Homo sapiens: one gene and its partners. The protein of the gene in region 1 purifies or fractionates together with the protein of each later gene. This does not show direct contact. Each region holds a gene or a part of one and is shown in the gene's direction. Other genes may lie near its edges.

Region 1 (3,500 bases):
GGTCAGGCTGGTCTCAAACTCCTGACTTCGTGATCTGCCCGCCTTGGCCTCCCAAAGTACTGGGATTACAGGCGTGAGCCACCGTGCCCGGCCTATTTATTTATTTTGAAATAGCGTCTCGCTGTGTTGCCCAGGCTGGAGTGCCGTGGCGCTGTCACAGCTTACTACTGTCTTGAACTCCTGGGCTCAAGAGATCTCCCTGCCTCAGCCTTCTCAGTAGCCGGGACTACAGGTGTGCACTACCATGCCTGGCTAATTTTTACTTTTGGTAGAGATGGGGGTCTCACTGTGTTGCCCAGGCTGAATCAAATATTTATATATAGTTGAGTCTATTTCTGAATTCTGCATTTCATTTAATTCCTTCACATTTCTATTTTTGACTCAGCGCTGCACTCTTACTGGCTCCTTCAATCTCTGGGAAGGAGGGAGATTAGTCCCCTCCCTTTCTCTCCTTTGTTTTTCTGGAGACAGGATTGTGCCCTGTTGCCCAGGCTGGAGTGCAGTGGTGATCATAGCTCATTGCTATGAGTCCTTGAACTCCTGGGCTCAAGTGGTCCTCCTGCCCCAGCCTCTTGAGTAACTGGGACTACAGGCATGAGCCACTGCACCTGGCTCCCCTTTTTCTGCTTTTAATGAATTTGCTTTTGCTGTGTTGACACTGAGGCAGGCCAGGCTTCCTAAAGTAGGAGCGTGCAGGCTCCTTACAAAAGCTGACGCCCAAGCAGGAGTGGTTATCATTCTTTCTTCTGTGCTTGAAAACCTTCAGCTCCTCTCTGTTTGATGATAGCAGCTACCAACAAAGTGCCTGTTGGGGGTCAGGTGCCTATTAAATGCTTTTCTTGTGGTACTTGATTTAATTCTCCCAAGGCAATATAGAGCCCAGGAGCGTGTGAGTCCAAAGCCCTGTTCTTTCTGTTGTTCTCTTGTATGGACCAGATTTGAATGCACCACCTGATTTCTTTTTTACTTTGAGACAGAGTTTTGCTCTTGTTGCCCAGGCTGGAGTGCAGTGGCGCGATCTCCGCTCACTGCAACCTCCACCTCCCGAGTTCAAGCAATTCTCCTTCCTCAGCCTCCTGAGTAGCTGGGGTTACAGGCATCTGCCACCACGTGCAGCTAATTTTTTGTATTTTTAGTAGAGATGAGGTTTCACCATGTTGGCCAGGCTGGTCTGGAACTCCTGACCTCAGGTGATCCACCTGCTTCGGCCTCCCAGTGTGCTGGGATTACAGGCGTGAGCCACTGCACCCGGCCATTTTAAAGAAAAATAAAAGATAGCAGTTGATGCCAGTGTTCTCAGTGTGCTGGGGCTGTGCTCTCCGGGCTGGTGTGCCACATACCCTCCCTTCCTCATTTGTCTTAGGCCAGAGAACTTTATTTTTTATTTATTTATTTTTGAGACAGGGTCTCTTTCTGTCATTCAGGCTGGAGTGCAGTGGTGTTATCAGGGTTCACTGCAGTCTTGACCTCCTGGGCGGGCTCAAGTGATCCTCCCACCTCAGCCTTTCAAGTAGCTAGGACCACAGACGTGCCACCACACCCAGCTAATTTAAAATTTTTTTTAAAGACAGAGTCTCCCATTGTTGCCGAGGCTTGCTTTTGAATTCCTAGGCCGAAGCGATCCTCCTGCCTCTACCTCCCAAAATGCTGGGATCACAGGCATGAGCCACCATGCCTGGTTAGGCCAGAGAACTTTATTTTTTATTTTTTTATTTTTTGAAATGGAGCCTCGCCCTGTCGCCCAGGCTGGAGTGCAGTGGCATGATCTTGGCCCACTGCAACCTCCACCTCCTGGGTTCAAGTGATTTTCCTGCCTCAGCCTCCATGAGTAGCTGGGATTGTAGGCATGCACCACCACACCTGGCTAATTTTTTTTTTTTTTTTTTTTTGAGACAGAGTCTTGCTCTGTTGCCCAGGCTGGAGTGCAGTGGCATGATCTCGGCTCACTGCAACCTCCACCTCCTGGGTTCAAGCAATTCTCCTGCCTCAGCTTCCCTAGTAGCTGAGATTACAGGCGCACACCACCACGCCTGGCTAATTTTTGTATTTTTAGTAGAGATGGGGTTTCACCATGTTGGCCAGGCTGCTCACAAACTGCTGACCTCTCGACCTGCCCGCCTCAGCCTCTCAAAGTGTTGGGATTACAGGTGTGAGCCACTGCGCCCGGCCATGCCAGAGAACTTTAGACATGCCCTTAGATGTGTGCGTGTGATTAATGGATTTTGTTTGTTTGTTTGTTTTTTTAGAGATAGTGTCTTTCTCTGTTACCCAGGCCAGAGTGCGGTGGTGTAATCATGGCTCACCACAGCCTTAAACCTCCCAGGCTCAAGTGATCCTCCCACCTCAGTCTTCAGAGTACCTGGGACTGCAGGCATGTGCCACCACCCCCAGTTGATTTTTTTTAGTCTTCTGTAGAGACAGGGTCTTGTTACGTTGCCCACGCCGCACTGACGGTTTTGACTCTACTCACTCAAACCTCGGAGGTTGTGGTCTTTACTCTTCCTTTATTGATTATCTTCACTGAGCTGGCCTTCTGACCTGGGTTTGTGTAATCCTAAACCAAGCCTTTCTAACCTACGTGTGGTCTCCTTTGGGGTCCCGTAGATCCCAGCTCTGCTGTTAAACAGCAGTGTGATCTTAGACCCGTTTCTTAGTCTTGCCGAGCCTTGGTTTCTTCCGTGGTAAAGGGGATACTACACCCAGCCTCGTAGATGTGAGTAAGCGTGACTGAAACATTTGTGGAGAGGCCTGGCTGCTGCAGATGGCATACATAATTTATTTTGTTGTTGTTTTCCGTCTTAATGAAGATATCTTAGGATTTTAATGCTGTCTCAGAACAAGTAGATCCTTGACTTATGTATGGGTTATGGATTCACATACTTTTGACAGATTATCATTTCACCACTCCCCCAAAAGAAAAAACCCAACCGCCGCCCCCCAAGCCCAGTCCTCACGCTCCTGGTGCTGCCCTGGGGATGGAGATGTGACTGGTAGGGAGCGTGATGATTATTTTTACTTCGGGTGCATCCTTTGTTTGGGTTATCTTCCTGCTATGTTATATCATGACAGTGTATGTTAAAACTCTAGCTTCTGGGCCAGGCGTGGTGGCTCATGCCCAAAATCCCAGCATTTTGGGAGGCCGAGGTGGGTGGATTGCTTGAGGTCAGGAGTTTGAGACCAGCCTGGCCAACATAGGGAAACGCTGTCTCTACTAAAAATACAAAAATTAGCTGGGCGTGGAAGCGCATGCCTGTAATCCCAGCTACCTGGGAGGCTGAGGCACAAGAATCGCTTGAACCCAGGAGGCAGAGGTTTGCAGTAAGCCCAGATGGCGCCACTGCCCTCCAGCCTGGGCGACAGAGCGAGAGTCTGTGTCAAAAAACAAAAACCACTTCTAGCTTCTGGACTTGAATCAAAACTTGGGTATGTGGAACCTTTTCAAGGCTTTCTCCCTTAAGTGAGATCAGACCATTTCAGCTGTGTGTCAGAGGTGTGGCATC
Region 2 (4,318 bases), on another chromosome or scaffold:
GGGCTGCTCGTCTCCTACAGCTCCTGGTCAGGGACGGGAGGGCAGCCAGGCCAGAGGCTGGGCACAAGTCAGGGTCCTCTGAGCCCTGCACCCAGCTCTTCCACAGAGGTCAAGGGGGGGATGGAGGGTGCTCTAGTGGAGGCCGTTTCTCAGGGAGCCTTTGGACATTTTCTTTGCCACGAACTCATTGTGGGCCTCGGAGCACGTGGCCCAGCCAGCTTCCTTGCCATCAGCAAGAGTGTGTTTGTCTCTGACTTGTCACCCCCTCCTGTCCACACAGCTACAGCCTCTGACCCCGAGCAGGAGACACCTAAGAGAGCCCAGGCCACAGAGGATGGCCTGGACTTTGCATTTCTTCTGAACCATGAGGTGCCAGAAGGGACCGGAAGTGCTCCCTCAGCACCCACTCCTTCCCTGTCACCCAGTGCTCAGTGCTGCAGCTGCTCACTGTCTTGGGCTGAGCCTGCTCCGGGAGCAGTAGGAGCTGGTGCAGGCCGCTGTAACTGCAGGGGTGCCAAGGTGGGACTGACTGCTCCTTCCCAAAGCTGGGTGGGCACCAAGTACCTCTGTGCCAAGGAGCCCTTGATACTTTGGCAGGGCAAGCCACGGGCTCTACCCACTGGGCCCGCAGTAGAGCAATGCAGTGCCTGAAGCTGGTCTGTGAGCAGAGGAGTCCCACCCTGCTCGGCTCAGCCCTGGCCACAGGCCCCATCCTCCAAGGCCCCATCCTCTCCGAGGACACGGCAAATGTGGAGCAGAGGCTTGAGCAAGACCAGTTACTGTGTGATTCTAGCATGGACTGTCGGTGAGCCGTGGGGCACTGAGAAATGGGGCTCTGGCGGCTCTCTCCCATGGCCCAGCAGGCGGGGCACGGCGGGCAGCATGGCCAGCCTGGCATATTAGAAGCCCTCCTTCTGCCGTGTCCACCCAGGCTTTGTAAATGGCCAGTGTGACGGTGGCGATTCAGCATCTCATTGACATCCTCATTTTACAGCTGGGGAAACTGGACATTTCAAGTTTGTGACCAGGTGGTGAGGGCCACTTGGAACCCAGGCACCCGTCCAACGGCCAGAGCAAAGGCAACTCTGAGGCCCTTGCCCAAAGGTGTTGGGAACCTTAGCGTCCTTCCATCTGGGACTGTTGAGGCCGCTTGGTTCTCCTGATGCTCCAGAGTAGATCTTGGGAGCCACGTTCCCCCGGATCTCAGGGTTGCTGACCTGGGTGGGGGACAGGGACACGCTCTGGGCTCACTGCCACTCCAGACTCTGCCAGTATCAGGGAGCAGTGTTGGAGACAAGGTGACCCAGTCCAGGAGGCTGTCCCACCCCTGTGCTCGCCCGTGCTTGCCACCCTGGCAGGAGCTGCCCCCAGTGGCAAGTTCTTCCAACCTGCCAGTTCCCTTGGCGGCCAGACCCATGGGAATAGACAGGAAACCCTAAAATTGCCACTTTGGGGGCCTTCCATTCAAGGACTCTGCTCAGGCCTGACCTCGTGTTTGGTTTCTTGCTTGGGGGGAGGGGGGTTGTTTATTTTATTTAAAAAACATTTTTTTCTTTTTAAGGAAGAAAGTGGAGTGCTGTGGGCTGGGAAGAATGTGGTGGCCATGCCCAGGCGTGGCTGCTGAGGGGAGAGATGGCCTCAGAGCCCCGGGTCCTGCTTCCTGCTGTTCCCAGGCCGGGGCTGACAGCAGAGCCCCTGGGAAGGAGAAAGGGCCTGCCCGGCAGGTTCCCCTGGCTGTCGCAGGCAGGGAACCAAGCATGCTTCCCCCTTGGAGACTTTGTGTGTCCAGTTGAAAAGTGGCAGTGGCTACTCCCTGGCTCCTAGGTGGCCATTCCCTCTGCCAAACTGGCACCTTTTTTTTTTTTTTTTTTTTTGAGACAGAGTCTCACTCTGTCACCCAGGCTGGAGTGCAGTGGCACGATTTTGGCTCACTGCAACCTCTGTCTCCAGGGTTCAAGCGATTCTTCTGCCTCAGTCTCCTGAGTAGCTGGGACTACAGGCGCACGCCACCATGCTGGGCTAATTTTTGTATTTTCAGTAGAGACGGGGTTTCACCATGTTGGTCAGGCTGGTCTTAAACTCCTGACCTCATGATTCGCCCGCCTCGGCCTCCCAAAGTGCTGGGATTACAGGCGTGAGCCACCGCGTCCCGCCAAGCTGGCACCATTTTTGCAGGCTCCTAAGAAGCAAGTCTGGGGCTCAGTGGGGCTTACTGCTGAAGCCCGGTGGCCCCCATTCCTGGGACAATGCCCGGCTCCTGGTGGGTGACCCCTACAGGCTGGGATTGCTTTGCCTGTCATCTGCATCTGCCTGTCGCTACCTTCCGCTTGACCAGCACCTTTTTTTTTTTTTTTTTTTTTTTTTTTGCTTTTTTTCATCCCCTTCTGTGGACCAAAATGTCCTGGCCCACCTCCCAGGTGAGATGCAGGCCCCTGACCTTGGGGTTTTCTCCACGTTCCAGTCTCCCAGTGCACAGCCTGTGCCCTGAGGGTCGCCCAGGGCCCAGGCCTCCTGTCTGCAGGTGCCAAGGGCAGGGACCGTGTCTTTCTCAATTCAAGAGATTTTTATGAAGCCCTTGCTGTGTGTGAAACACCACAATCTCCGTCCACCGTTTCCTGTGTCCCTGGGAGTCCCACATGCCGGGAAACATGTCCTTGACGGTGGCTGGTGGACATGAGCTGGCGTGTGGCCCGAAGGGGCGGGTGTGCTGGTGTGGACGCGGGGCCCATCCTCGGAGCTCCTGTCAGTTCTCAGAGGGCATCCTCACTCCCCGGTGGGGGGCATGGGCCCCCCTCTTCCCATCCAGGCAGGGTCTGTTCCAAAGCAGTCATAGGATGCGAACTCAGGGTCACCTAGGCCCATCCTTGTCTTCAGTGCCCTGCTTCCTGCTGGAGACAACTTTGGAAGAGGCCGCGGCCCCTCCCAGCCTCTGAGGGTGGGGAGCAGGCCAGGGGGTCGCGGCCTTGGAACCGTGCTCATGGCAGCCCTGCTGTGCTCGTGCTATCTCGCTCGGCCTTTCCTGAGGAAGGCTGGAACCAAGTGAGATCAGGGGCCGAGGCCCGGGAGTCCACTGCAGCCCTTCCTGGAAGGACAGTGCCCAGTGGAAGCGGATAAGAGCCCCCTCTCGAGGCCGAGGTCAGAGGCCAGGCAGGGTCCACAGGCCAGGTCCGCACTGTCTGGAGCTGCTCTCCGCAGACGGCTCTTCTGGCTGAAGCTGCCATTCTTCCAGACCCTCGGGCCCAAAGCCTGGAAGCCCTCACGGGGCTGGCCTCATAACCCTTCTCCCGGTCCCCGACAGCCTGAGCCTTCTCCCACCCACCCCCTTCCCCTTCTTCCTGCCCAAGTGTTGCCTCTGCCTGGGCTTCCTCCGCGTGGCGCCTCCAGTGGAGTCGGGCCACCCACCGCCCTGGACCAAGCCTCCTGAGTCCTGCTCTCCTGCCCACTCCTTGGCTGTGAAGCCCCCTGGTTTGCAAGGCCCTGCCCTCCGCCTCACCATGGCCTTTGTGTGCCCTCTCTCCTGCCCCATTGGCCCCTTGCTCATCCCTGGACATACTGTCCCCTGCCTGTTCCCACGTCTACCGACCCCCCTGGCTTCGCCAGCTGCCGAGATCCCACTTGCACTCCAGGAACCCAGTGGAGTTCCACCTTCTCCACACAGGCTTTCCAGACCCAGAGGCCTCCTCTCCTTCCCAAGGCTTCTGCACACGCTGTCTGGTATCACAGGCTCAGAACCATGCCCTGGGCAGGGCTGTTTGGAGCAGGGGGTGGCTTTGGCATGAGGTACACAGTGCCTCAGGGGTAGATGTGCAGCGGGTCCTCGTGACCACAGCCTGGGTGGCCAGTCCGACCAGCCCTGGGCTGGGCTCCTAGGGGCAGGCAGGGCCGGGGTGCAGAAAGGCAGGGGCCATGGCAAGCACAGAGAACCTGGACTTGCGGATCCAAATCTCCACCAGCTGCAGTCATTTCACGGGAGGCCTGCTGGTGGCCCCATAGACCTGCAGGGCCATGTGAGCGTGACATGGGCTCAGGTGTGTTGTCCCTTCAGGCCCCCAGCCTTGCAATGCCCTCAGCATGGCAGCTACACGTTACCCCAGGAGCCCAGACTAGTGAGGACCAGATGCAGGCCTCAGCTGGCTGTTGGGACAGACCGGCAGGGCTGGGCTTGAGGTGGGCCAGGAGAGGGCAGGAGGGGACAGTAAGGTGGTATTTGAGGCCGGGAGTGTAGCCTGGTGTGGCGCTCCCAGACAGCACTCAGTGTGGGGTGAGATAAACAGGGTGGGGGATGTCGGGTTGGGTTTTGAGGGTCACAATGGCCAGG
Region 3 (4,318 bases), on another chromosome or scaffold:
AAGTATTAACTCACATGATTACAAGGTTCCACAATAGGCCGTCTGCAAGCTGAGGAGCAAGGAGAGCCAGTCCGAGTCTCAAAAATGAAGAACTTGGAGTCCAATGTTCTAGTTGGGGAAGCATCTAGCATGGGAGAAAGATGTAGGCTGGGAGGCTAGGCCAGCCTCGTCTTTTCATATTTTCTGCCTGCTTATATTCTTAGCTGCGCTGGCAGCAGATGAAGTGTGGGTCTGCCTCTCCCAGCCCACCGAGTCAAATGTTAATCTCCTTTGGCAGCACCCTCCCAGACACACCCAGGATCAATACTTTGCATCCTTCAGTCCCATCAAGTTGACGCTTAGTATTAAGCATTACAGAAGGAAACAAAACCAATCCAAAGAGGGTTTAGTTTAAAGTTGTCCTGGTATAAGAGTGACCACAAACTCCTGGCAGAAAAACATAAGTCCTTCTGGAGTGAGAAGCTACGTTCTGAATGAATCAGTGAACAGAAAACATGAAAAAGGTTCACGGAAGCTCTGGATTGAGATGTTAGACCCCAAATACACTGCCTTTGCCTCTCTCCCAAGGTCTCATTTAAGTATCCCAAAGTATTTTTTTTTTTTGAGACAGTCTTGCTCTGTCACTCATGCTGGAGTGCAGTGGCGTGATCGTGGCTCACTGCAACCTCTGCCCCCCGGGTTCAAGCGATTCACCTGCCTCAGCTTCCCAAGTAGCTGGGATTACAGGTGTGCACCACCGTGTCCATCTAATCTGACAACACATCATTAGTGTTTTGTAGTGTAGTGCGGAAGGCATTAGTCTATTTCGGACAGGCAGGAGAGGAGTTTAGGAAAGGAGTGATGGGGGGTGGGGGACGTTTTAGCTGTGTATGGTCTTGTTTAATTGGCTTTTAATTTCAGGCTGCATGAGTTGTCATTGGAGGGACTAGATTTTATGGAGAACAGACTTAAAGAAACTCAGAACTTGGCTGGGTGCAGTGGCTCATGCCTGTAATCCCAGCACTTTGGGAGGCTGAGGCGGATCACCTGAGGTCAGGAGTTTGAGACCAGCTTGGCCAACATGACGAAACCCTGTCTCTACTAAAAATACAAAAAGTAGCCGGGTGTGGCGTCGGGCACCTGTAATCACAGCTCCTGAGGAGGCTGAGGCGGGAGAATTGTTTGAACCTGGGAGGCAGAGGTTGCAGTAAGCCGAGATTACGCCACTGCGCTCCAGCCTGGGCCACAAGGGTGAAATTCTGTCTCAAAAAAAGAGAAGAAAAAAAAAAGAAACTGAGAACTCTGGTATGGAAAGATGAATGTGGAGAAAAGCTGTAGTCAGAGTTCAAATCATCTTTAAAGTACACATGAACTCGCTTGCTCACTAAACCCAAAGATGGTAAAATAGGCAGTATTTCTTGAAGCCAAAGGAGTGGGTTTTTCAGGTTATCCAAGAATGAATCAAAGGCTGGAACTGAGGTGATCAGGGGTCAAGCGCGGACTTTGCTTGGCCATCTCTTTTGGATGGTGCACTCAACAAGGGCACTGACTGTTTACAAAGTGTCCTTCCTCTAGCATGTGGTGGGTATACCTGGTAGTCTAGGAACCTTCCAGGTATCTGTCCAAGGCATAGGGCACAGCATCCCTGTTTCAGCCATCTCTCCATCCATCTTCTTCCCAACACTGTGATTTTTTTTTTTTTTTTTTTGAGATGGAGCCTCGCTCTTGTTGTGCTGAAGTGCAGTGGCGCGATCTCGGTTCACTGCTAACTTCCACCTCCCAGGTTCAAGTGATTCTCCTGCCTCAGCCTCCTGAGTAGCTGGGACTATAGGCACCCACCATCACGCCCGGCTAATTTTTATATTTTTAGTTGAGATGGGGTTTCACTATGTTGGCCAGGCTGGTCTCGAACTCCTGACCTCAGGTAATCTGCCTGCCTTAGCCTCCCAAAGTGCTGAGATTATCGGCATGAGCCACGTTGCCTGGCCTCAACACTGTGATTCTTTTTTTTTTTTTTTTTTTTTTTTTAGATGGAGTCTTGCTCTGTGCCCAGGCTAGAGTGCAGTGGCGCAATCCCGGCTCACTGCAAGTTCCGTCTCCCAAGTTCACGCCATTCTCCTGCCTCAGCCTCCCAAGTAGCTGGGACTACAGGTGCCTGCCACCACGCCTGGCTAATTTTTTGTATTTTTAGTAGAGACGGGGTTTCACTGTGTTGGCCAGGATGATCCTGATCTCCTGACCTTGTGATCTGCCCACCTCATCCTCCCAAAGTGCTAGGATTACAGGCGTGAGCCACCGCGCCCGGCCTCCAACACTGTGATTCTTTATGGACCTATCTCCTCTACTACTTCATGAAGTTTTGAGGGACCAGGTCTTATTGAAGTTTTTGTTTTGTTTTGCTTTGTTTTCATTCTTACTTTTGAATGATTAAAACTGAAAATGGATCCAATTACTTTAGACAGATGCTTTATAAAGGAAAATCCTTGGTGCATGCCTCATACCCCTACTCCGGGATATGAGAAAGTAGGTTATGTTTTTAACAAACTTTTTTGATAGACATATATGGAAAGTTTGTATAATTTTGAAGATGTATTTTCTCTCCATGTAATTATGGCTGGAAATAGCCGGAGAGAGGAGCAGAGTGTGTTTTCAAACCTGGGAATGTGTGGGGCCTGCTGTTTCCCATCCGGCATTCTCCCACGGTCATCATTTAGTTGAGTGCGGCCACCAGGCTGCCCCTACACATCTGTCACTGACTTGTTCTTCTGATCACTGCAAGTGCCCACGTTTGAGAAGGCTGATGAGGGTTAAGGCATTTTCTAGAGCATCAGTGGCTGGTTAACTTGGGGTTAGAACTTGTGGTGTCAAAGGCATTAACTAACAGTGATATTTCTGTTTCTTGAACACTCACTGAGAGTTTTAGGCTTATGCTCAGTGTTTGCATTATTTCATTGAGTCTTTTTGACAATCGTAATTAGATTTGATGATCCCTGTTTCTTAGGGATATGCAGATGTGGCCCTGGAACTCAGGACTTTACAGCTCCAGGCTGTATTCCTCCCTCTCCATCCTGCCAGAGACAAGTCCTGTGTCTGGAGTTTCCCTCTGATCTTGTCACTTTATTTCTTATTAACAGAATAAAGCAGGTCTAAACTTACTTTCTACTTGGAAATGGAATGGTGAGTTAATATTTGGATCCCTCAGAGTCTGCCTTGTGAATAAAGCTCCTTGTCTTGAGTAGTCTTGGAGCCACTTTCGTTGGAACCTCACATAAACATCTGGGCCCTGAACTTGGACTTCGTGACTGTGCAGCCTATTGAAAGATTAGAACAAAGATGTGCTGATTAATATGCCCTAAAAGAGCAGCAGGTTGGAAATGAGTTTGGGGATTTCATCTCATTTCAAGATTTCCTGAGGATCTTGGCCTAGCTTTGCCAGGGACCATTTTGTACTCCCCGGCTCCTTGTGCCATAGGTGCCTGTGTCGACCAAACATGGCTTTGTCCTGAGGCTCTCTGGGCTCATGGCTTCTCAGTCAATTGTCTGCCTAGTGCCCAAAAGCAGTTGCGCTCGAGCTTTTCCCATTAAGGAACCGTTTTAGGGCTTTAAAGTGATGTCAATTCCATTTGCAATGTAGTATTTATCATTTGACTTCTTATTACACTGAAATGATAAGAGGAATGAAGTAATATTATTACTGATCATAGTATTATTTACAACCTTTCATCTTAGATAGGTTCCATGAAAGAATCAATGGGAGTTCTAACGCATTGGTGGCCAAGGCATGTGACCTTCCCCGGCTGTCACCTTTATTTTAGATGGTGACCTCTTTACAGGCACTGGCTAAGATCAGTATTCGTCTTCTCTGCCCCCTTCTCTGCCCCAACATCTTTGATCATGTCTGGCACATAGTGGGTGCAGCTGAAGGTCTGGGCATTTCCAGATTTGTGATGAAGGCGTTAAGTACCCCCACCTCTTCTTTTTCTTTTTTTCTTTTCTTTTCTTTTTTTTTTTGACATGGAGTTTCACTCTTGTTGCCCAGGCTGGAGTGTAATGGCACAATCTTGGCTCACTGCAACCTCCGCCTCCTGGGTTCAAGCAATTCTTCTGCTTCAGCCTCTCAAGTAGCTGGGATTACAGGTATGCACCACCACGCCTGGCTAATTTTGTATTTTTTAGTAGAGACGGGGTTTCTCCATGTTGGTCAGGCTGGTCTCGAACTCCCAACCTCAGGTGATCTGCCTGCCTCGGCCTCCCAAAGTGCTGGGATTACAGGTGTGCGCCACTGCGCCCGGCCAACCCCTGCCTCCTCTTTACAGTCCTCTTCCACCCCGTCCCTGGC
Region 4 (4,318 bases), on another chromosome or scaffold:
TGGGAAAACAAAGATTAACAAGAGAAGGTTTCTATTCTCAAAGAGTCTTATGCTGTTAAATCTGGGAAGAAACTGTAGATTTAAAATCAAGATATTAGCTGCCATTTGAGACTAGTAAGATCGCTAAATTAGCCCGATAGTTGTGGACATAAGCTAGTATTTATACGTTCCCTGAAATACAGTATTTCTAAATTGTCCATGCCTTCAGAAAAAAGTTATTGTAAAAAAATTAGAAAATACATATAATTGGAGGTTTTTTAACAAATAGAGACAGGGTCTTGCTATGTTGCCCAGGCTGGTCTCAAACTCCTGGGCCCAAGCAATCCTCCCACCTTAGCCTTTCAAAGTGCTGGGATTATAGGCATGAGCCACTGGATCTGGCCCCTATAAATTGGTTTTAAAATCAGTAGTTCCATAATAGAAATATTTTATATTCACATTTTGGTGAATATCTTCCCTATTTTCTATTTCTTAATATGTAAATATATATGTATTTTAAAAAATGAAATCAGTCTATTAATGCTGCACTGTAGCTAATTTTTCTCATTTACAAATATATCAGAAACACATTTTCATGTCGGTGAATATAGAGCTTACTTCATCATGGTTAATACTTCCAGTGTCCATTATAAGGAGATTACATCTTGCTTAATCAATACTCTATTGCTTAATGCTTATGTTTCCCACCAATTTTTTTGCTATTATAAACAGCACTGATGACTATTATTTATAGATGTTTGCACTTTTGTCTGAACATTTTCTTAGAAAAACTCCTAGATTTAGAATTTCTGGGTCAAAGAGTATGATTTTTTTAAAAAAGCTATGGACATACATTGCCACATTCTCTTTTGGAAATTGTTATTCTTCTACACGAAGTGTATGAGTATGGCTCTTTCCCCATTCATCTACCAACACTGAGAATTATTAGTCTTTCTAATCTTTACTAATCTGATCAATGAACAATAGTATCATTTGAAAACTGTTAAGGTTTGAGTACTATTTGAGTACTGTTAAGGTTGAACCTCTTTTTCATTTGTTTATTGGCCAATATTATTTATTTTGTGAATAAACTATTTCTGTTCCTTGCTCATTTTCTATTGGAGATTTACTTGTTTTCATCTTTATCTGTAAAAGTGATTTACGTATTAATCTTTTGTCATATGTGTCACAAATATCCCTCCTGTTGCCATTTATCCTTTTTAAAAAAACTTTCTTTATGGTCCAATTTTCTGTACAGAAGCCTAAATGTTCAAGAGCCAAATCTATCAGTCTTTTCCTATATGATTCCTTTTGTGATCATTTATGCCTCAGCTCGTGGTTTTCCTCTGTTCTGCAGCTGGTATGCTGGGGCAATACAATGTTGATAACTGCAAAAGTGATATTTTCTACCCCAAGATGAAGGGTCAACAGAGGCGCTACTTTATAGCAGCTGAAAAAATTCTTTGGGATTATGCTCCTCAAGGCTATAACAAATTCAGTGGTCTTCCTCTAAACGCCTCTGGCAGGTAAGCACCCTTTGTTGGTGTTTCTAAGCCTCTCGTCAGAGAAGCATGTGTTAGGCTTTCTCTGTGATCTAATTTGTATTCCAACCACTGCTCTGATGAGCTTATACTGCATAGATGGCATAATGTAGCTGCTTAAGGTGTTCTTAATACTGCAAAAGCACTGCTGAGAACTGGTAGAATATTTTTTGTTTTGTGACTTGACGGCTGAATCAAAACACTAGATCATTCACTCATTGATCAAACATTTCTTGAGTAGGCACTATGTGCAAACTATAGTGCAAAGTGCCATTAGAAATACTAAGCTGACAAAGAATAGAGTAAGGCCTTTACACATATGGAGCAGACAGTCTTGAAGAGGGAATGACAGGAGATGGAGATGACCTGGCCTAAGAGGGTTACCCTTTTTGGTTCAAGGATATCCTGATTTAAGTTGTGTCCCCTTTATGTCCTACAAATATTCTTTTCCTTTCTATTCAGTAAAATGCCATTTTTCTTTCAAAGCCTTACTCTAATGTCACCTCTGAAGTGAAACCTTTGACTCTTGATATAAATGAATTATGTTCTCTCTGCGCTCCCATAGAATATACTATTTAAAAAATTAATCTAGCAATTTATTAGGTGGATCTGGACTCCTGTGACTTGTTAGTATATAATCATATGCAAAGTTGTCTGTGAAGATACTAAAAAATGTACAGTGTGATATCAAGAATCCTTTTTTATATTTAAGGGAATGTTTTAAAAATTCTCTTTGTGATCAATAAAACATCATTTGTTTCTTTAATTGTACATTTTATTCATTCATTCATTCATTCATTCATACTTTCACTCATTATTCTACCAAACGGATGCACTTGAACCCTGTCTAAAGAATTTGTGTGAACCATATGTGAAAGACTCTGATATCAACATTCTCTATTGACTAGTATTTCTCCATAAACAGAATAATGAGAATTAGCATTCAAAATTGTCTTAGGAGCCTTCTAGAATTCTGAAGTGCCTTCTGAAATAGGAAAGATTAAACTATATTCAATCAATGTTTAATGTGATATATGAAAGCACAAAGTGCAAGATGACATGAGGGATGCAAGGATATCTAAAGCAATAAAATGCAGAGGAAGAAGCTGGGTTCACAAGAGTAGAGAAGTAACTGCAAGTTACAAATAAAAGTGAGGTGAGTTGTCCTGGTAGTGAGTTATCTGGATGCTCAGAGAGAGCTAAGCTGGCCAGGGAACACATTATAGAGGAAGTGAGACTTAAGCAAAATCTTAAGGAGTGATAGAATTTATTTAACTGAATAGGGAAGAGAGGAATTTTAGATGGAGGGGTTGATGCAAAGCACCTGTGGCATGGGAGGAATGAACAGATGAGACTGCAGTAACAATTTGCATAGAAGAATGGGCACTGGCATGGAGAAATAGAGAATTGGGGTAAACGGGATATCAATTGCAGAGGTCCTTTAATCTTTTTGAACATTATTTGATTGGCAATTGGAAGCAATTGAAGATTTTGGAGCAGGTAAATAGCAATAACAATTGCCATTTTGGAGATTAATGTATTAAGTGAAAAAATAAGCACAGTCTTGGCCATTGAAAGTAATTTGTAATCACGGTCTTGGCCATTATGACCATTATGGCTTACTTTTGCACCAATCTAATAGTTGTGTGTCTATGCTGAGAAGAAAAGTGAATGAGCCAGTATCAGATAGAGGATGCAGTTCAGAGGTTCATATAATGGGCTCCACCCAGTGTGATTAGGGCATGAACTGGGGTCGTGGTAGTGGGAAGAAAGGAAAAGAAAAGATGCACAAGGAGGATAGAAAAGGAAGAGTGCCAAAAAATTTTACAAAGTAAGGATGAATGAGTTAAGGGAATGAAGCAGAAAAAGAAAATCTACGTGGCTGCAAGAGTGATGGCACCATTGATGGAAATAAGATAGTATAGAGACAGTATTAGTCAGAATTTATATTATCATATTCACGACTTGGAAATTTTGCATTTCATGCATATGGTTTATATGGTAGCCCTCCAATAATTACACTATTTGATTAACTAGACACTCCATTCCTTAATAATGCCAGAAATCAAAGAGCTTACTAGATGCAGAGAATATTCATATTAATATCAGCAAGAGAGAGAGGGATGCTTATTCTGCAGAGAAACCAGTTAGCTCTTTGTTACTTTGTAGAACACCATTCTGGAACTCTACTATTGGTAAATAAGGAGTTTACTTGTGACTGGTTCAGTGCTGGACCTCTTGGGAAGAAAGTACAATGGCTGAGAGAAATGAGCTTGAGTATCACCCAGCCTCTGAAGACTTTTAGGGCTGGTTAACTATTCCTGGGAACTCTGTCAAGGCCTGTGCTGTCTTTTCTGGGGACATGGGTGGGCGAGTGGACTAAAAGTGATAGAATGAAGTTCTATAATTAAAGTATTTGGTGGATATGTTGAGAAGTGTCCTCAATCACATTCCTATGTCTTTTCAGTGACTCTGATCTCTACTTCACACAAGGGGACAACAGAATAGGAGGAAAATACTGGAAGGTTCGGTATACTGAATTTGTTGATGCAACTTTTACTAAAAGAAAGAGACTCTCTGCTGAAGAAGCCCATCTTGGAATTCTTGGTACAGTAAAACCATCCCCCATGCATTGAACCCAGGGAGATGTTTTAGCTGGGCATGTACATCTGCACAGAATGACTCTTCTGCTTTACTTCTTTCTGTCTCTTTTCATTCTCTTCTCTCTCTTCTTCTGGATATTTTTTCAGGCCCAGTCATCAAGGCAGAGGTGGGTGATACCCTGTTAGTGACCTTTG

Evidence for each region.
Region 2: the proteins of TBC1D14 (region 1) and GRK2 purify together in Homo sapiens (affinity purification with mass spectrometry; 2 studies listed by BioGRID and IntAct, with this or other methods). This does not show direct contact.
Region 3: the proteins of TBC1D14 (region 1) and TRAPPC9 purify together in Homo sapiens (affinity purification with mass spectrometry; 2 studies listed by BioGRID and IntAct, with this or other methods). This does not show direct contact.
Region 4: the proteins of TBC1D14 (region 1) and HEPHL1 purify together in Homo sapiens (affinity purification with mass spectrometry; 2 studies listed by BioGRID and IntAct, with this or other methods). This does not show direct contact.

Annotation. Positions count from the first base shown.
Region 1 is NC_000004.12:6,919,826-6,923,325, forward strand, and holds part of TBC1D14 (TBC1 domain family member 14), read left to right. Parts: intron 1-3,500. UniProt on the Homo sapiens protein: Plays a role in the regulation of starvation-induced autophagosome formation.
Region 2 is NC_000011.10:67,272,157-67,276,474, forward strand, and holds part of GRK2 (beta-adrenergic receptor kinase 1), read left to right. Parts: intron 1-4,318. UniProt on the Homo sapiens protein: Specifically phosphorylates the agonist-occupied form of the beta-adrenergic and closely related receptors, probably inducing a desensitization of them. Key regulator of LPAR1 signaling.
Region 3 is NC_000008.11:140,374,243-140,378,560, reverse strand, and holds part of TRAPPC9 (trafficking protein particle complex subunit 9), read left to right. Parts: intron 1-4,318. UniProt on the Homo sapiens protein: Functions as an activator of NF-kappa-B through increased phosphorylation of the IKK complex. May function in neuronal cells differentiation. May play a role in vesicular transport from endoplasmic reticulum to Golgi.
Region 4 is NC_000011.10:94,069,038-94,073,355, forward strand, and holds part of HEPHL1 (ferroxidase HEPHL1 precursor), read left to right. Parts: intron 1-1,336; coding exon 1,337-1,505; intron 1,506-3,987; coding exon 3,988-4,127; intron 4,128-4,270; coding exon 4,271-4,318. UniProt on the Homo sapiens protein: Is a copper-binding glycoprotein with ferroxidase activity. It oxidizes Fe(2+) to Fe(3+) without releasing radical oxygen species. May be involved in the regulation of intracellular iron content.